2 linked regions of the Homo sapiens genome follow. The protein of the gene in region 2 purifies or fractionates together with the protein of the main gene of each other region. This does not show direct contact. Each region holds a gene or a part of one and is shown on either strand. Other genes may lie near its edges.

Region 1 (3,500 bases), on a different chromosome or scaffold from region 2:
CAGGCCATGGGCTTGTGCTCATTTGCTTGTCCCTTTGTTAAGTGGCCCCAAGCCTGCTGTAGTTGGCAGACCTGTGTCTGCTTTGTTAGATAACTTTTCTGTCTCCCCGTTGTCTGGCTGTGGCTTCTCACTGAGGTCAGCATGGTGGTCATCCATAGCATCATTTCTCAGACTTTAACGTACCTGTTAAAATTTAATTTTAAACTCCCCAGGGATCTTGTCCAAATGCCAATTCAGGCTCAGTACATGTGGAGTAGAGTCAGGATTCTGCTTTTCGAGCAAGTTCCCAGGTGAGACTGATGCTGCTGATCCTCAGACCATATATATCTGAATGTTTCGTTTCATGAGTTCCTTATCCATAATATGTAAAGTGCATTCAGCATTAAGAAGGCATTTGGGGCACAACTCCCCATTGCAGTGGGACTTCGTCAGTAGCCCCTTGCCAGGCCTGGGATGTGTGGCTTGAAGGTGGAGTCAGAGTGCTATATGGCATCCACTTGGGGCCTGCACTCTGGTTGTGACCTCAGTCCTGAGAGACAATGGGCCCCAGGCTCAGCCCTGGACCAGCACCCCGTCTGGCCCAGCAAGGGGCTCAAGAGCAAGCTCAGAGGGTTGCTGGAGCAGGTGAGACACTCATGGGTAGGACCCAAGTGGTCTGTCTCTGAGCCTCCCGCACTGGCCTGGGCTGGGCACGGAATGGCGCTAGCCAAGCGCTAGCTCAGTTGGGATGGAAGGGCTGCAGGATGAGTGATTTGGGGATCTAGGAAGGCATCCGTGTACAGCTCCCTGGGAGAGGCAGCATCCAAGGTGGTCTAGGGGAGAATTCACAGGAGCAGAGTGACAGCAGACCTGGGCCTGAACTGGCTGTATGGCTCTTGCTGCTTGACTGGTCCAGTTATCTGACCCCACATCCACCTCCCACGATCCTGGCCTGACACGGCCTGAGCTGAGGGCCACCAGTGCCCTGGGCTGTCATCTTCTTCTGCTGGGGACAGAGCCCTACACATCCAGGCAGAGCCTCTGTGTGCTCTTCTGGGTAACAGGACGAATCTGTGCTTCTGCTTCTGCTTCAGATGAGGCAGTGCCTCCAGTGATAACACACTGGCTGTGCTCAGCATTTTTTTTTTTTTTTTTTTTTGGAGACATGGTCTTGCTCTGTCGCCCAGGCTGGAGTGCAGTGGGACGATCATGGCTCACTGAAGCCTCAAACTCCTGGGCTCAAGTGATTCCTCCACCTCAGTCTCCCAAATAGCGGGACTACAGGCGTGCACCACTGTCCCTGGCTGTGCCCATCTTAATGATGTGACATGACCCAGTAGAATGCTTCCTGAGCTCTTACATGTGCCGGGCCTGGTACCAACACCTTACATACTTTAGCTCATTTAATCCCATCACAACCCAATTAAGAAGGTGTTATTATTATTCCCTTTTTACAGATGGGGAAACCGAGGCTCAGAGGGATTTGGTCACTCCTCCAGGGTCACACAGGCTGTCCACAGTCTGGCTCCGGGGCCCTCCTGCTTATCCTGCACCCACAGTGATTGCTGTGTGTGTTTTCTTCAGGAGAATCCCTTCAAAGAAAGGATCGTGGCGGCGTTTTCCGAGGATGGTGAGGGGAACCTCACTTTCAACGACTTTGTGGACATGTTTTCCGTGCTCTGCGAGTCGGCTCCCCGAGAGCTCAAGGCAAACTATGCCTTCAAGATCTATGGTAACCAGGGCTAGAGGAGGGGGCCTGAATATGCGGTGGGGGAACATGTGGGGCCCTTAGGCTGTCTGGTTACTACTGGCTCCTGCCCTAGGGACACCAAGAACAGTGAAGCTGATCTGTCCTCTGAAGAGTGCCTGTCCAGTGGGGTGGCCAAGGGAGACGATCAGTCCCTGAGAGACATCTGTGAGGGTCCTGAGAACGAAGGAGGGAGGGACTCACCCATCCCAGGTCGGGTGGTTAGTGTGAGAGGGGTCCCAGGCATGACCTTTAAGCAGGGACTAGCAGAGGCTTGGACTGGAGAAGAGGGGGCTGGCAGACCTGACAGAGGGCGCAGCCCATGCAGACACAGGGAAGCGCAGAGCTTGATAAGGAGATGGGAGGAACTTGGAAGGTGGTGGGACAGGGGGCGGTATGAGTCTGGAGAGAATCTGGGGCCAGGCTGTGGGAGCCAGCCACAGAGTTTGGACCTAGTGATCCAGACACCAGGGCCACTGCAAGGTTTCCAGTGAGGAAGGGCAGCTCTGTTTTCTAGAAGGATCACTCAGCAGCTTTGAGGTGTAAAATGGAGGAGCCAGAGAGGCTGCCTAGGCCATGGTGGTAAGGCCAGGCCTGCAGGGGGGCCTCTGGAGCCCCCCCGAATACTGCCTGAGGTAGGGCCACCTGGATTCACCCCGCCCAGCTCTGCCCTCAGGCTGGCTGTCTCACCAGCCACCAGAGGGCGGCGGGCACTCATGAGCCAAGGACTCATGCTTCTCCCACAGCCACAGGGAGAAAACTTCATACCCACGAGCTCACCCCCTCTGCTGGCCTGACAGACCCATGGGGACTGGTGTCAAATCCTCAGATAGACCTCAGTTGAGATGCCTAAGGCCTAGGAAGGGGCTGGGACCCAACTTGGACCTGAAGAGTCAAGGTCAAAGCTCCTGTCCTCAGCACGTTTGATCAGACACTGGATCCCAAAGGCAGCAGGGCCTATCAGGGGCTGACATTTTGCTTTCTTTTTTCTTTTCTTTTCTTTTTTTTTTTTTTTTTTGAGACAGAGTCCCACTGTCGCCCAGGCTGGAGTGCAATCGTGTGATCTCGGCTCACTGCAACCTCTGCCTCCCGGGTTCAAGCGATTCTCTTGCCTCAGCCTCCCAAGTTCAAACGATTCTCCTGCCTCAGCCTCCTGAGTAGCTGAGATTACAGGTGCCCGCCACTACACCTGGCTAATTTTTGTAATTTTAGTAGAGATGGGGTTTCACCATGTTGGTCAGGCTGGTCTCGAACTCCCGACCTCAGGTGATCTGCCTGCCTTGGCCTCCCAAAGTGCTGTGATTACAGGTGTGAGCCACCACGCCCAGACTGACGTTTCACTTTCTAGTTATCATGTTTATTTCAGAGGACTTTGGTTTCTGTCTGTGCACCCACGTTTTGCTTGCATATTAGAAAGAAAATACCTGCCAGTCTGCCCTCCACAAACTATGCCCACATGGCTCATGTAAAAAGCTTCTCAGATTCCACCCAACATCCGCCCGGTCTTGGACCCCATAGCATTGCTCCTGGGACGGGCTGCTGTCTGCCCAAGACAGGGGCGTGCAGATCGCATGGACCGGGTGGGCACAGGAATACATGGAAGAACTGTGGCTTCCTTGCTGCTCTAGGCTGGGGGTGGAGTGGGGAGAGGCAGCCAGGGCCCTCCTAGTCTGGCGCTGGGGAGGCCTGGGGCCTCATTTGCAACAATGATCATCTCACTTCTGAGCCTCAGTTTACTCAGGTTAAATGGCCACAGGAATTCAGCCAGCCAGCC
Region 2 (2,191 bases):
CCCACCCTCACTGTCCTGCGCCTCACTCCCTGCATCAGGCTCCTTCCCACCCTCACTGTCCTGCGCCTCACTCCCTGCATCAGGCTCCTTCCCACCCTCACTGTCCTGCGCCTCACTCCCTGCATCAGGCTCCTTCCCACCCTCACTGTCCTGCGCCTCACTCCCTGCATCAGGCTCCTTCCCACCCTCACTGTCCTGCGCCTCACTCCCTGCATCAGGCCGCCTCCTACCCTCACTGTCCTGCTCCTCACTCCCTCCATCAGGCCCCTTCCCACCCTCACTGTCCTGGAAACTGCTGGGTCTCGACTTTCCCCACCCTGACACCACCAGCAAGATAAGCCTCAGGCTGGGCGTGGTGGCTCATGCCTGTAATCCCAACACTTTGGGAGGCCGAGGCAGGAGGATCGCTTGAGCCCAGGAGTTGGAGACCAGCTTGGGCAACATAGTCAGACTCCATCTCTATTGAAAAAAAAAAAAAAGACAAGCCTCAGTTCACCCCATGGCTCTTCCAAAGGATTTATTGGTCCTATTTACATCTATTGCAAATTGTGAGAAGGCAGCAGGGGCCAACCCCTGGACCTCATCTCTGTCTAGAATGTGAGGTCGCAGGGATGCTTAAGTCTTCCTCTGGCAGAGACCCGAGGTGCAGAGATGATTCTTCTCACCCCTTCTCTCAGGGTCGTGGAGCCCCAGCAGGGGTTCAGGGCCCAGAGGCTGCCCCCTCAGCTGAAGGCACAAACACTGTGGTAGGGGTGGGCAGACAACGCATGGACTCACTCCTGGCAGGCGCCACTGGCCAAGTGCACCTTTTCCCCCTGCTCCTAGCCTCCTTCTTCCTTCCCGTCCCGGTCCCACACTGGCCAGGGCCTGGATGGGTGGCCACTTAAACCCCAGACCCAAGCCCTTAACTCCTGGACCACGGCCAGCCTTCCTTAGGCTGGAATCCAAGCACCATCAGTGCCCTGGACCAGGCCAGCTTCCCTGTCCTAGAGGGATGGGACAGAGAGTGCCCAGCGGGGGCTGAGGGGCTAGAGACCGGCTGGGCAGGGCCAGTCTCCCTTCCCCTTCCCGAGCTTCCCTGTCCTCATGTGGACCCAGAGGGCAGAGCTGGGGAGAAGTGAAGGTAGCAACGCTTCCTCCTGCTCTTAACTTCCTGCTTGCTAGGAGCCCTGTGTCCCCAAGCCATGAATGAGACCCCTCTGGCAGGCTTGGTGGCTCTGGTGATTCAGGGGCCAGGACTCCCCCACTCCATTTGCAGGCCCTAGTTGGCAGGCCATGTGGGCACCCAGGGCGTGGGACCCAGGGCCTCCCTGGAGGGAGCTGCTGCTCAGGGAACAGGGTGAGTGGACACGCGCCCGCAGATGTCTTCCCACCCTTGCCCGGCCAGCTCCTGCCTCAGTCTATGCCAGGAGGCGGATAACCCCGTTGTCTGAGCCCAGCAGGAGGTGGCGTTTAGTGGGCAGCAAGGCCAGGCTGGTGAGCGTGCCGCGGAAGTTCTCAGAGCTGAGCTTCGTGGTGGCCTGCGAGGGTGGCTCAAGCAGGGAGCAGACGCCAATCTTGTTGGACACGGTGCCAGTGACCACCTCGCTGCCGTACAGGTCAAAGGTGTGGATGGGGTCGGATGCTGACTTGTAGTGATGGGTGGGCTTCTGCTCCAGCTCCTTCCAGACGGTCAAGGAATGGTCAGAGGAGGAGCTGACCAGGACGCTGCCCTCCACCGCCTGTCCCGGGAGAGGAGAGCCTCAGCAGGAGCCTGGGTCCTTCTGCATACCCTTGGGCCCCAAGGCCTTCCCAGTTCCCTCCGCAGTTTCTCTCCAGGGAGACAGGCCGTCCTGGGTGGGTGACAAGCCGCCACCCTCCCACACACACCATATTCACGTTGGTTCATTTTAATACGCTCAGCATCCGTAACCCAGTCGTCACTCTAACTTGAGAACTACGCACAGGCATGGTGCCAGGCGTGCACGTGACGACCTTGACCTTCGTAACAACCCTATGCGGTGGATGCTGCCATTGTCCCCATTTCACAAACAGGAAAAGTGAGGCTCAGAGAAGTGAAGTAACCATACCAAGGTCATGGGGCCAGCAAGCAGCAGAGCTGGGATTAACACCCAGGCTGACCCCAGAGCCCTCCTGACACTTTCTTGGAAAGTTAGAATTTGGGGGCACCTTGAGCTGAGGGTTCCCTGGG

Evidence for each region. Proteins that work in one complex are often made in the same cells at the same time.
Region 1: the proteins of WDR81 (region 2) and CIB2 purify together in Homo sapiens (co-immunoprecipitation; one large-scale study listed by IntAct). This does not show direct contact.

The regions. Positions count from the first base shown.
Region 1 is NC_000015.10:78,107,446-78,110,945, reverse strand, and holds part of CIB2 (calcium and integrin-binding family member 2), read left to right. Parts: intron 1-1,436; coding exon of another isoform or gene 1,437-1,563; coding exon 1,564-1,711; intron 1,712-3,500. UniProt on the Homo sapiens protein: Calcium- and integrin-binding protein that plays a role in intracellular calcium homeostasis. Acts as an auxiliary subunit of the sensory mechanoelectrical transduction (MET) channel in hair cells.
Region 2 is NC_000017.11:1,736,895-1,739,085, reverse strand, and holds the end of WDR81 (WD repeat-containing protein 81), read right to left. Parts: intron 1,722-2,191; coding exon 1,401-1,721; 3' UTR 501-1,400; downstream 1-500. UniProt on the Homo sapiens protein: Functions as a negative regulator of the PI3 kinase/PI3K activity associated with endosomal membranes via BECN1, a core subunit of the PI3K complex.